2 separate regions of the Homo sapiens genome follow, and region 2 is linked to region 1. A link means that fine-mapping ties the variant in region 1 to the expression of a gene that starts in the linked region. Tissue or cell type: tibial nerve. Region 1 holds a variant in brackets; the other region holds the start of a gene. All regions are shown on one strand. Distances are between the middles of the regions.

Region 1 (8,104 bases):
AGGGCAAACATACTGTTTCATTCAGGCTTCGGCTACCTGGATGTGTGTTCCTCGGGAGAGTGGTTGTGTGTGGTTTTCGCACACCGATATGGATTGTTCTTATAAAGCTGAAAGGGCCACGTTCATAAAACAAAAATAAATAACAAAAATAAAAGCTTTTATCTTTTGCTGTGAATTCTTTTTTTTTTTTTTTTCTGAGACGGAGTCTCGCTCTGTCACCCAGGCTGGAGTGCAGTGGCGGGATCCCGGCTCACTGCAAGCTCCGCCTCCCGGGTTCACACCATTCTCCTGCCTCAGCCTCCCGAGTAGCTGGGACTACAGGTGTCCGCCACCGCACCGGCTAATTTTTTTGTATTTTTAGTAGAGGTGGGGTTTCACCGTGTTAGCCAGGATGGTCTCGATCTCCCGACCTCGTGATCCGCCTGCCTCGGCCTTCCAAATTACAGGCATGAGCCACCGCGCCGGGCCATGAATTCTTAAATAATGAAAAGTGCCTGCAGACTTCTCCTACTCGGTGAATGAGAAAATGTCCATGTTGGCACCCCGTCAAGAGGATAGGTTTTCACAGTACTTAGGGGAGACAACCTCCAGAAATAAAATAACCTTGTGGCAGTTTACTCACAGTGACTTCAGTCCTCAGGGAAAATATGGGCTCAACAAACTGTACACTAGGACTATAATAAATATTGGAGATGGATAATAATTAAAATATAATTTCAGTTAGTTGAAATATTATTCCATCAAACCATTTTTAACTCCAATACAGATATACTTTTTGAAAAAAAAAATGGAAATACAGGCAACTTCATAGAAAAAAGGCCCTCATAAATGTTAAATTTAAATTTTTTTTTTTTTTTTTTTTTAGACAGGGTCTCTCTCTGTCACCCAGGCAATCTCAGCTCACTGCAAACTCTGCCTCCTGGGCTCATGCAATCCTCTTGCCTCAGCCCCCAACCCCCAACCCCCACCCCCTCGCGGCAGTAGCTGAAATTACAGGCATGTACCACCACACCCAGCTAATTTTTGTATTTTTAGTAGAGATAGCATTTCACCATGTTGGCCAGGCTGGTCTTGAACTTCTGGCCTCAAGCGATTTGTTCACCTCGGCCTCCCTAGAAAACATTTAAATTATCTCTTGATAGCTGTTTGTGTGAGAGGTGTTTATACTGTCGTGTGCTGTTTTTTCTGTTAACATAATTTCAAGAAAACAAATGAAGATTTTTATGCAAATAACCTTTTATAATACAATAAACTGCCCTTATGGAGGTTCAGAAATGATGAAAGTTAGGCAAATGAAGCCTCATAGATAACAAAAGGGTTCCCACTAACTCCTGCCCTCCATCTTAACCTCGGCACTGCGTGTTCAGAAAATCAGAAGGCTGGAAACTCTTACCAGTTCTAACTCAGTGGATGGATGAGGGATCCATCCATCCCACAGAGAGAACATATGAAAATTCCAAAATCTGAGCAGATACCTGCACAGTGCATTAGCTACCCTACAAAAGGAAGTGCTTAAATACAATTTTTAAAATGTTTTGGTTACTGGCTGGGCGCGGTGGCTCTCACGCCTGTAATCCCAGCACTTTGGGAGGCTGAGGCGGGTGGATCACGAGGTCAGGAGATTGAGACCATCCTGGCTAACACGGTGAAACCCCGTCTATATAAAAAAAAAAAAAAACACAAAAAATTAGCTGGGAGTGGTGGCGGGCACCCATATTCCCAGTTACTCGGGAGGCTGAGGCAGGAGAATGGCGTGAACCCGGGAGGCGGAGCTTGCGGTGAGTGGAGATCGCGCCACTGCACTCCAGCCTGGGCGATGGAGCGAGACTCCGTCTCAAAAAAAAAAAAAAAGTTTTGGTTACTAAGAGCTATCAAAAAGAAGTGTGGTTGCTTTTCACAAGAAGTTGACAATAAACTTTTTAGTGATTAGTAAATGATGGAGTGATTTTAAACATTGAAAAGCAATCCCTCATTGTTCCACATTATTGTGAAGATCCACGGTATGCTAGTTTGTTAAGCGGGAGCAGGTGTGTTTCTTTCCAGCGGACAACTCTGCCTGGCACCTGACTGAACCTCTTCCAGGGGTATCTTGGGTCCTGGGCCAAGCTGGCGTGGGTGCAAGGGGGAGGTCATTTATATGGAGCACATATAAATGCAAAAATCATTATTGAATTGATCTCTTCTCGGTACTCATTATCCAAACCTGAGTGTGACTCCCCAGCTTTTTATTTGAAGCTCAAGTGTACGCCTGCATGATGTGCGGGTGAGATTTAGGAGATGTGTAAGTCTCCACATCTCACACTGAGCCATGTACCCGTTAGGACTCAGATGAGTGACAAAAGTGCAAGAAACCACAGGGTCAGCTGGTGCATTGCTCCAGAGACTCATTTTGGTCAAAAATTTGTACAGGATAAGCGTATTCATATTTGTTTATATTAAAACAAATCCAACTGTACTACGGTGTAAAATGCAGAACTGGACTTGATTTTCTTTTTCAGTGAAAACAAGGAACATCAAAAAATTACTGCTTTGTAGAGGGCTGCTGTGGGCTGGGTTTTGGTCCTTAGGAGCAAAACATATACTCACTCCTGCTCTTCTGCCAGGAGGGGCAGTTCAGGAGAATCATCTGGAGACCGGATTCTCATTTATCAATTTCATTTCACATCCAAGGAAACTAAAGCACAAGGAGAAAACTGATGTGTGGATGTGATTTGGGCTTCATACACCTTCCTTCTTCCATTAAACTTTGGCTATGTCTTCCTACTTTCAACCTCAGCCTTGACCAAGTAGACAATTCAAAGGAAGCCTGGTCTAGTGGTCCAGGGAGGAGCACAGGAGGGTCCATGATTCTAGTTCCTGTTGTGCCACTAACCAACCATGTGACTCAAGCAAGGGATTGCATGTCCCAGTCCCTCGGTGACAGAGACATGTAAAAGTGGAGTGTGAAGGGCTGTGTGAAGTGGTGGAGCCTGAAACCTGGAGTCCAGCGATTGAAGGCACTTTGGTAAGGAACGGAGGTGGGCTGCCCAGGAGCAAGTCCAATCTCAAGCTAGCACACTTGCCCTCTGCCTTATCTGCATGGCCTGTGGTTGGTGACTCCAGCACTGGGCACAGTGATGAACACATCATAGGTGGTTAATGTGCCTCTGCTGAATGAATGAGGCATCATGGGAAACCCTGCAGAGGTGGTTGGCATTTGCAGTAGAACTCAAATCAGAGGGGTTTGCTGGGAGAAGGAGATGGATAACTTTGTAAAACAGATGTGCATGATTAGACTTATGTCCCTCCTTGCTAGCACAGAAAAATCCCTGATGTTTATCAGTAGTTCTAAAGGCAGGATGGAGCTCAGGCTGGTGGAGTGTGTTTTATTCTTTCACCTTCCCAAGTATTTGTGATCCTTCCTTTCAGCACACTTGGGAAAGCCAAGTGAGAATGGGGCTTGGTGAGCAGGGAGTCCCAGGTCTTGTGGGGATCACAGAACCTGCCTTCCTTTCTTCCTCCATCCTCCTGGGAAAGAGAGCTCCCCTTCTTCACCCCATGACACTGTGAAGAATTAAGCCCTAAGAGAAACCTGTGCCGTATCACCATTCCTTTGTTTAGTGTTTCTCACTTTACCTTTCTCTCCGTTTTCATTGCATCTGGTGACCGGAAATGCTGCTGGGAGGAGGGAGACTCCTGAGGGAGATTGGTGCCATAGCGTGGGGAGCACCAGACACCAGGGATAAAAGCGTCCACATATGCACTGTCTCACGGAGACACTAGACACTTCACTAGAAAGTGGAAGGCAGAGATTTAGACTCATGTTTCGTCTGGCTCCAAAGCCCATATTTATCTCACTGAGGTGGGTATAAACTGTTTATCTTGTTGGAATTAGGAAGAGAGTGGTAGAACTTTCAGGAACCTTCATTGTCAGCTAGATTTGTACTACGAGATTTTCCTGAATTTCCAGTGCAAAAGGCCCACAGCCAATTGGTCTGAGGAAGGAGGCTCTAGGGGAGCCGTTTGTCCCCCAGCAGCAGGAGGAATCCAAATGAAAATCTTGGCCACACCGCAGCTGAACTGGCTCTCAGTCACATGGAAGAGGTTCCATTTCAGGTGTGCTCTCTGGGTTTTCTTTTAGTGGACTTTGGGAGAGGAAAAGGGCTGGATTCCTACTACTGTCCTCACCTGAATGAAGGAGAAGCAGGAAAGAGGAGGGGCTCAGATTCCCGGGTCGTGAGTGCTTGGGGGGCCGCTTGAGTGACTCTATGGGCTTTGTGGGTTAGACTCCTGGGAAGACCTGGCTGGGCACCTAATTTCTATTTTTAGAATCCTTTCTGGTAGAAAGTAAGTTCCAGGTTCTAAACATGAAGTGCAAGGCCAGGTGTGGTGTCTCTCGCCTTTAATCCCAAGCATTCTGGGAGGCCAAGGTGGGTGGACTGCTTGAGCTCAGGAGTTCGAGACTAGCCTGGGCAACATGGTGAGATCCCATCTCTACCAAAAATACAAAAAATTAGCCAGGCATAGTGGTGTGCCCCTATGGTCCACCTACTTGGGAGGATGAGGTGGGAGGATTGCTTGAGCCTGGGAGGCAGATGTTGCAGTGAGCCAATATCATGCCACTGAACTCCTGCCTGGGCAACAGAGTGAGACTCAGTCTCAAAAAGTTAAAAATAGGCAGGGCGCGGTGGCTCACGCCTGTAATCCCAGCACTTTGGGA[G/C]GCCGAGGCGGGCAGATCACGAGGTCAGGAGATAGAGACCATCTTGGCTAACACGGTGAAACCCCATCTCTACTAAAAATACAAAAACAAAATTAGCCGGGCGTGGTGGCGGGCGCCTGTAGTCCCAGCTATTCGGGAGGCTGAGGCAGGAGAATGGTGTGAACCCGGGAGGTGGAGCTTGCAGTGAGCCGAGATCGCGCCACTGCACTCCAGCTCCACCAACAGAGCGAGACTCCGTCTCAAAAAAAAAAAAAAAGTTAAAAATAAATAAATAAAACAAAAATGATGTGCAAATGGACTTCTGAACACAACCTGTTTATAAGTTGAGGTTGTAATGATAAAAATGGTTTTAGGTTCAAGACACATTTTAAAATCTTGATGTTTGAAATACTTGTGAACAGGAACTTGCATTGGTAAGAACATGTAACAAATGGATATGTACGATGATGAAAAGCTAGTGGTATGACTAGGTTGACAGAAAAATGAATCAATGCATCTTCCTCACTCAGAAATAAATTAGACTAAAACCAGTCACCACCTGAAATGACTCCGTTCCTGCCAAATGCTTTGCGACCTGTCTCTTTTCATTAGGTAGGCTTTGTTGGTCCTGGTATGGAGGCTTTTATGTATTTCATCTTCCGTGGAGCAAATGGGGTGATAATAAATAAATGCTTGCTGTATACAGGTGGGGCAACGGAGGGACGCCAGTGTCAGAGTAGTGGGCGGGTTCTGCTCTCCCTTGCCCACTATTGCTGGGTGACCCTGGAACAGCCAGTTGACTGTTCCAGGTCAACTTTGCTCATCTGAATACGAAATTAGGGAATAGAACAAGCCTTCATCAATCTCCAAAAGTCTGTGATCCTGTATATAAAGCAAAGTTTTATCGCAGAGCCTCCTGAAAAAGGACTAATCAAATTATGATTCAATGAGTGATTTTTTTCATAGCTATATAGTTATTATCAGAGTAGGTTATTGCTTATTTTTGAAGTCTGTGTTTGGAAAAGATTAATACAGTTATAAATTGTGTTTCTCAAAAGTCCCTTGAGTGACAGGGGACATTAAGTTAACAATTGTAGATCCTTTGTTTTCTTTGCATTTCCTTTGTGATACGCAGCTAGCAAGTTATCTGATTTCCAGCACAGCGTCACAGACATTTCCATGCCTTTGACTTTAGAAAATGCAAGCGTGAGTGTTGCATCTTGGAATTATAAATATTCGTGGGTATATAAGTTCATACCCACACATAATGCAAAAGTTAGGACTTCTGAGAAAAATGGTGGCTGGAGTTATCTTCAAAGAATGGAAGCAATCATACCTTACTTTGCTGCAGTACTGCTTAGGATAACTATGTTTGTCTCTCCCTTGGCTTCACCAAGTCAAATTTAAGCTGCCCTTCATTTTTACCAAATTTTCTGGCTTTAGAAAGAAACCACCCATAGTGCTGACAGTGTTGAAAAAGCTGATTTTTATGTCTTTTTCCTCTGTAAACGTGGCTACTTCATTCCAGGCTGGGGAAGAGGGGAGGGCATGGGTTCGGTCTTTCTACAAGATGCTCCTCTGTTCATATGTGGTTGGTGAGAATGTGTAAGTGGTCATCTGGGATGAGCCGCAAGTCTTTCACAGAGTGTGAGCTGTATTAGCCAGCTCCCAATGAGGCTTTGCATGATAGAGCCACAGCAAAGGGAAAAGACATATAAAAAGGCTGATTTTTAAACCTACTGCATCAGAACATGTACTTTGAAAGCTATGTAGACAGAGTGAATATAGTTTTAGGGAGGCAGGATTCTGGGCACCCACTGCTGTTGTAGGAAGGACAGGCCCCTACAAGTAGGTGTGCTGGCGCCTGTGGCTGGGAAATCTGTATTGGCTCTGCCTTTGGGCTGAACTGAGCAGAGCAGGAGCCATATGGAAGGTCAGACACCCTCCACAGTCCTGTCCTTCCCTTGCACAGCTCTCCCTCTGCCCTCTCAAAGACAACCTTTGTTTGTGCAGCTCTTTCTATGGGAGGCACTTGTTGACTTTCAAGTTGCAGGTTGCTCAGGAAATATTATTTACTACATTTCTTAGGTGAGGAAAGAAACATTGGAAGGTGAATGCACAGGCCCAGGGTCACACTAGTTAGTAACAGAGGTTGCTTTTGAACCCAGATCGCTTGTCATCAAATGAAATGTTCTCTCTGGGGTCCCTATGACTTCTAAAAGAAATTCTCAGAATATTTCCTGCAACTGATTTGCTGTCTTTCCATCATTTCACTTGTAGCCCAGTGTTAATAAGATCTTTTATAACCAGGCCAGGCACGGTGGCTCACACTTGTAATCCCAGCACTTTGGGAGGCAGAGGCAGGCAGATCACTTGAGGTCAGGAGTTCGAGACCAGCCTGGTCAACGTGGCGAAACCCCATCTCTATTAAAAATAAAAAAATTGGCTGGGCACAGTGGCTCACGCCTGTAATACCAGCACTTTAGGAGGCCGAGGCGGGTGGATCACGAGGTCAGGAGATTGAGACCATCCTGGCTAACATGGTGAAACCCTGTCTCTACTAAAAATACAAAAATTAGCTGAGCATGGTGGCGGGCGCCTGTAGTCCCAGCTACTCAGGATGCTAAGGTGGAAGAATGGCGTGAACCCAGGAGGCAGAGCTTGCAGTGAGCTGAGATCGTGCCACTGCACTCCAGCCTGGGTGACAGAGCAAGACTCCGTCTCAAAAAAAAAAATATATATATATATATATAAAATAATAATAATAATAAAATTAGCTGGATGTGGTGGCATGTGCCTGTAATCAATCCCAGCTACTCAGGAGGCTGAGGCAGGAGAATCACTTGAACCCGGGAGGCAGAGGTTACAGTGAGCAGAGTTTGTACCACTTGCTCTCCAGCCTGAGTGACAGAGCGAGACTCCATCTCAAAGAAAAAAAAAAACAAAAAAACTCAAAAAACCAACCAACCAACCAAACAAACAAAGATCTTTTGTGACCAGCAATACAGAACCATTCAGGGACTCTATGAAAAGCTCACATCTTGTGGCCAGGGGACAGCAAGTGGCCACAGCAGCGAAGAGGGGGAAGTGTCAGGATGGGATGACCGTCACCAGTTCCTGCTTCTCAAAGGCTGGGCAGGAGCTGGACTATTTGCAAGGGTCTGGTAGACTGGAGGAGCTACAGCCATCAGTGGTGGAGGGAGGGGAAGGGGGAGAGGGAGGGGGTTACCACTCATGGGACACCTGCACCATGTGAAGCACAGCGCTCCCTTAAGCTCCACAGTGGGAGGGCGGAGCCTGCAGGGCAGATGTTCTCTCTCAGCCTCCAACAGGGAGGCAGCAGGTGATGGCCTGAGCATGAGCACTGGATGCTGTTCCCGGGACGCTGACTTGGAAAGGAGAGGCGGGGAGAATCCACGATGCTGC
Region 2 (8,104 bases), 59 kb after region 1:
AAACATAACCAAGCTAAGAAAACACAAAACTACGAAGAAAAAGATTCAAATGAAACATCCTTAGGCTGCCCTCTCATAGCAGGGAGTAATTGCCTTCAGGTAAAAGTTGATTCCGGACCATTCAATTCACTGAAAGCTATTCACTGTCTTAGATTAACCAGCACCTAAAAACACTTGACTAAATAGGCTAGAAATAAAAATGTTTTCCTTGAATAAATGTATATATTATTGGTTTTGTAGATGAGAAATACCACTGGTTTTGCCGAATTTAAATAGTCAGCTATGTAAAGGGTCTCTGGACTAGGAAAAATTCCTTTATTCCTAAATATTTTGGCTTCAATATTTGAAATCTGCAAAAGCAGTATTTCTATCTGTCAAAATGAGGCCATTAAGTTTTGATTATTCAAACCTGGAATGAAGTGTGTGTGTCTGGGGGTAGAGGAGATGATATGGACTTCACTTTGAATATAAATTACGTACTGGGTGGAGCAAATGGATTTAAAGAAAGAGGAACCCTGGTTCAATTCTATTTGCCAGTCAAGGTGACTCACTTGAACATCTGAAGGCCAGCGTACCTGTGGAAAGAGACTATTTCCTGGATTTTCTTCTGTGAGTCAAGATGCTTAAAACCCATGTCTTTTAGTATCTGTCATTTTGGAGTTGTAAGGGAAAATTGAGTTTTAAGCATAAAGGAAAAAGCATCTTATGCTGTGAGAAAAAAATTGACATCAGAATTTCTCAGAAAGAACTTAGTGAATTTTTTAAAATTATTTGACGTTATCCTTGAATGACTGATTTCGTTGTCCAAAGACTTAAAGAAAGGAGTTGGAATTCCCCAGACTTTGCCAAACTGTGGGATGGCACAATAGGTATTGTCAGGTCCCAGGGCCAGAATGAGGTAGAGATTTTATGTAGTTTCTCCTTTGTTAATAACATTTAAGCTGTTTTCGTTCTGATTTGCATTCTCCTGATTAGTGCAGTTGGTCAAAGCTGGTGCTAGCGGACTTGGCCAGATGTCTGGAGCCATATAAGCTGATTCTGTGTGGGAGATGCTGGGGCTGGTTCCTGCCCTCCTTTCCCTTCCTCCTTGCAGACAGAGTTCCATTTTGAGGTGGTCACTCTCTTGGCTGTGTGTTCGGGGTTTACAGTGACCCACCCTAAAGGCAGAGGGGCAGAGGTGGTGCAGAGACTGGTCATCGGTCTCTAGGGGCAATCAAGGTAATTCATCTCCCTTGTCCCTGATAGGCTCGGTGCAAAACCCATCTTCTAAAGGGCAGCTGGCCTCTTCTAGCGGGGCAGAGATCGTTCAGCTTTGACCCCTTTGTAATTATGGCAGGAGTCCAGGGCCCCACACCAGCCACCCTATTTCAATCTCCGCAGATCCTTCCCCTTCACATTGTGAGGCTTGACATGTCCCTGTGAAGAGCCGCAGGCATGGAACACTTTGGGAAAATCCCTATTCAGGCTCTCACTGGAAAACCCCAGACTGAGGGTACAAAGGCAATGGATCCTAAGCCTGGGTAGAGCAGAGCTGGGCGCTGGTGGATCGCAGAGCCTGAAGCGCCAGGAGAAACCTGCTGGTTACTTTTATTTTGTCTTTGTAGTGTCAGTCTAGAACCCCACACAGGATCTTCTCCATCATAGGAAAGTGTTCCGAGGAATTTGACTTGGTATCTATTTTATCTCTGAGAAACTTCTTTGAGTAGCTGCCAGTAACCTTTAGGGCTCTTTTATTTAAAAACAACAACAACAACAAACAAACAAAAAAAGTTCATGGCCAGGCGCGGTGGCTCACACCTGTAATCCCAGCACTTTGGGAGGCCCAGGCGGGCGGATCATGAGGTCAGGAGTTCGAGACCAGAATGACCAACATGGTGAAACCCTGTCTCTACTAAAAATACAAAAATTAGCTTGGTGTGGTGGCGAAAGCCTGTAATCCCAGCTCTTCAGGAGGGTGAGGCAGGAGAATCGCTTGAACCCCGAAGTCAGAGGTTGCAGTGAGCCGAGATCTCGCCACTGCTCCCCAGCCTGGGCAACAGAGAGACTCCGTCTCAAAAAACAAAACAAAACAAAACCGTTACTAAAAGCCGCTTACTTGTATTCATTCGGACGTCTCTGTGGTTTCTATCAGTTCCTGAACAGGAATGTATTGTTGTGTACAAGAAGAATATGTTAGTGTCTCCCTAATTTTACACATGCAGTTTTCTGTTTACAACTTCCCTCCCCACCTTATTGTCCTAACCCTTCTGAGAAGCTCCTTCATGTGTAACTACTAGGCTGTGATGTTTTGCAGTAGAGTCAGGCAGTGCTGTTGCCCTCCTGGGTGGAAGGGGCTGTTTGGAATGGGATGGAGAGAAAGCTGGCAGTGCACGGGACGCAACACTAGAAATGTGAAACCAGGACCCTGTCGCCGACCCTCTTAGAGAAATGTTTACTGTCTGGATGCCCCCAGACGCCTTGCCTGAGCGCCGTCACGCTTTCTGCCCTTTGGATACGAAGATATCCGAATGCTGTGCCCATGATTAAGCAGACGCTTAGTAAGGAAAGAAAACATTGGTCTGGAAATAATTTCTCAAGCGCCGTGACTGCCTTATTGCACAAACATCGCCTCTTCGATGTTTCTCACAATCCAGAGAGGAAGTGGCATCCATCGTGGCATGAATAGGAATGTGTGTTTGGAGCCGTGGGGCGGGGCTGGAGGGGAGGGGACGCTACCCAGCCAACAGAGGAGACGGTGGGGCTAGGAAAACCTCCTGGGGGAGCCTGCGGCGCGGTCCTTTCCTGTGTCCCCTTCGCTGCGGGTCCTGCCCGGGGCCGCGCCAGGTGGAGGCCCCGAGAGGCGGCGCGTTTCCTGCGCTCCGGGATTGCGGGAGAAGCGTGAGTCCCTGTCTCCGAGACTAGAGGCCACGGACACCCGCGCAGGAGCATCCCCTGGCACCCCGCCCCACGCCCGTCCTTCCGGAGTCTACACATCGGCGACCTCCCGTGTCTAGGCGCACACATTTCCCGCCCCGCGGAGACTCCCACGCCCCGGGCCCTCTCTGCCGCAGGCGCCAGATCCCGCCTCTGGGGGCTGGACCGAGAGGGTCCTCGGCGGCTTCTTTAAGGCTGCGGTCCCCGCCCCGTCGTCCTCCCCGCCCTCCTCCCTCTCGCCGCGGCTCCTCCCGCCCTCCCAGAGCAGCCGGGCGGCTGGGCGCGCGCGGCGCAGAGCAGGTGCCGGGGAGCCCTTCGCATGCGGCTGCCGGGCCGGAGGTGGTAGCGGCGCCGGGCGCGCTCCGCCCGCCCCTCCTCCGGGCCGCACTGAGGCTCGGGCGCGCGGGGACATGTCGGTGGCGACGGGCAGCAGCGAGACGGCCGGCGGGGCCAGCGGCGGCGGCGCACGGGTTTTCTTCCAAAGCCCCCGGGGTGGCGCCGGTGGCAGCCCCGGCTCCAGCAGCGGCTCAGGCTCCTCCCGGGAGGACTCGGCGCCCGTGGCCACGGCGGCCGCTGCAGGGCAGGTTCAGCAGCAACAGCAGCGGCGACACCAGCAGGGAAAAGTGACAGTGAAATACGATCGTAAGGAGCTTCGGAAGCGGCTGGTGCTGGAGGAATGGATCGTGGAGCAGCTGGGTCAGCTCTACGGCTGCGAGGTACCTGGGCGCGGGGCTGGGAGGGTCGGGGACCTCTCTAGCTCCTCTGTGCCCGCGCAGTAATTTTCCCGGGCTCCAGCTCCGGGGCGCGCATGTCCCTGACTCCCGGGGACCAAGTGCCAGGAGCGAGGCGCGGCGCCTTCTCTCCCCCGCGGTGCCCTCTGGCGTCGGGCTCAGCGGTTGGGACGCCCCTGTCTGGGTTCGGCTGCCGGTGCCCGGGGATCTGCGGGCCCCCTTGGTGGCCGTGGGGAGGGTTGGGTCCCGCGGAGCACAGTGCTTTTCTCCGAGCTCCGGGCGCCTCTGGGCTCCAGCTGCAGCTGCGCAAAGCGGGGCTCGGAGGGGCTCACTCCAGCTGCGCCTCAGCAGCGGTTGGGGATACAGCAGCCAAAGAGAGCAGCGCTCACTGCTGGGATCCGGGCAGCCCTGATTTTTGTGGAGAACGAGCAGGGAAGGAAGGAAGCTGCCTCGTGGAAAGGAGAGGTTCTGGGGATCTCAGAGGCCCCCTTGGTTCTTGAAATTCCCCGTGAAAATCCTGAGATGGAACGCTTTCCGCTTTCCAGCCAGCCCCGACGGTGTCTCCATAATTCCGCCCTGCATTATCAGAGCTGCACACGTTGTGCTTTGTTGAAGCCGTAGTTTTTCCTCTCTAAGCTCAGTTACTCCCATTGATGGGCGCAGAATGAGCATCTGGGGCAACCTCGACGGGTGCCTCGGTGGAAGGGCGGGAGCCCTGCGGGGGGCCTGCGGGATCCCGGGATCTGTCAGCTTCAGGCTCCCAGCTCCCCTCTCCTCCACGACATCGTGACTTCCCAAGGTCCAGGGACTAAGGTCATACACAAGTCTCAGGGACGTGTATACATTTGATTTAGGGAGAAATATGTAGAATAAACTGCAGCAAAACGACTGAAGCCAAAATGATCTCTCATGAGCATCTTGAATAACAGTTATTAATTCTAAATGAAGTGACCTCCTCTTAAGGGAGTGGAGTTTGGAAAGGGTGGAAGCATGAAGGGGTTAATAATTAAGAATGTGGCTTCTAAGCTAAAGCTAGGTTTGTGTTCATTCAACTGTTGTGCTCTTCAACAGAGATGACAACCAGATGAACTCACAGGCTTTACCACTAATGTCGGGTGTTCTGTATTTGACACATTTCATGGCCTGTTGTGAAGACACGTTTTCTTAAACACCCTCATTGCACAAGAAAACAGCATACTCGTTACTGACTACTGATAAATGATTATAATATAATGAAGCTTGACTGTATGACTAATGGGGTTGTAAAAATGTGTTGTTTCTCCAGTCCAGCTCTTACAAAAAGCTAATTTAATTGCATAAATAAAAACTGGCAAACATAAGAAGTATTCATGAGATTTTTATAGGAAGTTGGCAAAACTCTGTAAAGAAACATTATTTGATGTAGATGGGATTACTGTTGGATGAGTGGATGTGCTCAGTCCTGCCTCTGTAGAATCCAGTTAATTTTCATTTATTTCATACTGTTTTTTTTTTCTCCATTTGGGATTTGGAAAAGATTCGAATTAATAGAAAAAGCATTGTTGAAATTAACAGTGCACCAGCATGGTTCTTTTTGTGGGAGACTAATTAGGCTTAGATTGGGAAGCTAGAAAGAGCTCTACCCACTGAGTAGCCTGATAAACAATATATTTAAAAAATACTTCAGAATAATTAGAAAAAATGGAGGTTTGATTGTTTCCTGTGTGGAACATGTAGGTTAGGTATATATTTTAAAGGGTAAACATGAGCTTGAATCTTTTCCTTGTATTGTACTTTTCTTCTTGGGTTTTAAATCTTCAACCCGTAGCAAACAGCTAGACATTTGAAAGGGAGGTTTTTGTGGTGAAATAATTCAAGATGCTCTATATGCTGCCTGCATGTCATTAACGTGGCAAGTATTTTTCTTCAAGTTGTTTGTTCAGTCATTGTAGGCTGAAGGAAGAGAAATAATTAGGTTGTTGGCAATTTGTAATCACTATGCTGGTGGTGTACCTCCATTTAATAATAAAGAAACATGGGCAAATAAGTAGCCAAATAAAGGCTTGTCTCTTTGCATCTATTTCTCTGCTGATAGTGCTCTATTTTTAGCATTGGGTTCTCTTGTTGAGTAACCTTTCTTTGTTGATAGCTTCAAGTATTTCAGCCTCTGGTTTGTGAATCAAGAAGGACGCACCCTAGCTTACAGCTCCGAACTTCATGCATACGAAGATTAGGAAATGTCCTTTTTATACTTAAAAGTGGTAATTCTTTCAAATGTTTAGCCCATGAAAGTGACACAGCCAATTTCCCAGCCTTCAAACCTCAAACCTGCCAAAGGCTTGAGTTATCTGCTGAGTTGGGGTAGAATATGAACACATCTTTAATTTCAGAAGAACTTGACCCAAGCAGGTTAGGAATCAGATGACTTGACCTTTTCAGAATAGAAAATAATCTTTTGGAGCAGTGTAAAGTGATGTATTTAGAAAGAGGAAGAGGAAAGAAGAAATACACAGAACCACTTTCTGTCTGTGTTTTTTTCTGGAAGTGTGCAGTGACTAATCAGTTTTGTATGAGAATAATGTCATAGGGGAATTTATTACCTACCTACTAGGTGACTAGGTGCTCTTCTAGGTACTTTGGGCTAATTCATTTAGTCTTCATAACAACCCTATAAAGAAGATGTTCTTTTTATCCTTGTTTAAATGTAAATAAAGAAGTGAAGACTCAGAGAGGATTAAAAGGCTGCTTCAAGCTCATGTAGCTGGTGGGTGGGTTGGGGTTGAGGATGAACCCAGTCTGGAATCTGAGTCCACTGTATACCCATGAGGCCTGTCTGTACCGTGCAAGAGAGCAAATGTAGGTCTACAAGACATCTGTCTAAATGTTTAAAACTTATGAGTTAAACTAACAACATTTGTATAAAATTTCTTCTGTCCACTGATCTTGACAGCTACATCTTCATAATGACCTTGAAGTCTAGGTTTGCATTTTGAATTCAAAATGTTACTTCCCAGAGTCATGAACTGAAATGCAGTTAGGAGACTGCCCTGGCCTGGGTTTCTTCCCTTTTGCTTCCCATCCTTGGTACAGTCCCACCTGGTAAAGGACACTGTGTCCACTCGCACGCCCAGTCTTGGTATGCACCTGCCACTCCTTGACCATGATGCCTCTGCACACACCAGTGGTGATGTCCCCCTAGGCCAGAACAGATCTGGGAGGAGCTTGTTCATGCCCTAGAAGCTACTTGGGATTTGAGAAGGGAATTCTGGGGACCCGGATCACAGACTAAAACCAAGTGGAGGGGCACTGGTTCTGGATAGATGTGTCCACTTTGTCCTAGGAAGTCTTCAGGAAGACAGGTTATGGCAGGAGTGGGGCCCGGAGATGTGGTCCCCTCTTACCCAGTCTAAGGGCAGCACTGTAAAATACCACGTCAAATAGCCTTTTGAATACGTAGATAAGTGCTTTTATTGGATTCCAAAATGATTTGTTATGTGCTTATAGTTCTTTTCCATCTCATCTTCTCTTGGGAAGGCTTATACAGGTACATTTTCAGCTAGGAATTTGATTATAATGTAACCATTAGACTAAATCTACATCTACATCCACATTTAAGGATTTCTGTTTAAAGACCTTTTTTTTTTTTTTTTAATCTCTTCCAAACCCTGGTGGGTTTTTTTTGTTTTGTTTTGTTTTTGTTTTTTTGAGATGAAGTCTTTCTCTGTGGCCTAGGCTAGAGTGCAGTGGCGCAATCTCAGCTCACTGCAACCTCCGCCTCCTGGGTTCAAACGATTCTCCTGCTTCTGCCTCCTGAGTAGCTGGGGCTGCAGATGCGTGCCACCATGCCCGGCTAATTTTTGTATTTTTAGTAGAGACAGGGTTTCACTATGTTGGCCAGGCTGGTCTCGAACTCCTGATCTCATGATCCGACTGCCTCAGCCTCCCAAAGTGCTGGGATTACAGGCATGAGCCACCGCGCCCAGCCAACCCTGGTGGTTTTTAAGAGCATTTGAAATCTGGCATAATATCTACTTTAACAAGTACTGCAAGATGACTTACTGGATAAGTCATATGAATATTTCCAAGTTTGCCCAGCATCAAGATAACATCTGTACTTCCAGTTTTGCAATTCAATTTGCTTTGGAAATAAAAACATGTTGCTAAGCTCAGATGATTGCAATGCCCGTAGCATCCTAGCCATAAACAGGCTTGTGTACCTTGGGTACTTGCTGTGTTGTTCTGACTGTCACCTTAGTAGGTCTTTCCCTTTGCTTCCAGTGTCTGCTTTTTATAAAATGGTTCCTGACTTATTATACCTTTCAGTCTTCCCTGACTCCCCATTACCCCCATTTTATAAAAACTGTCTTCTGAGAGATGGTGGTGACACAGAAAGAAATACCCTGTTGATTGCTGCCTGATACATCTGGATATATAGATTGCTGCCTGACACATGGATACAGAGAAACAGAGAGTCATAGGGT

The links. PIP is the estimated chance that this variant, and not a neighbour inherited with it, causes the effect.
Region 2: it holds the start of PPP1R14C, and the variant in region 1 is fine-mapped to the expression of PPP1R14C in tibial nerve (GTEx, PIP 0.99).

Annotation. Positions count from the first base shown.
Region 1 is chr6:150,080,961-150,089,064 of GRCh38, forward strand. No RefSeq gene overlaps it. Among named protein-coding and RNA genes, the nearest start is that of ULBP3, 16 kb to the left of the region's middle. The variant G/C (reference allele first, on the strand shown) is at 4,700.
Region 2 is chr6:150,139,870-150,147,973 of GRCh38, forward strand. It overlaps PPP1R14C (protein phosphatase 1 regulatory inhibitor subunit 14C), which reads left to right and starts at 3,175. Exons shown (of 4, transcript NM_030949.3): 1 at 3,175-3,629. The coding sequence starts at 3,324.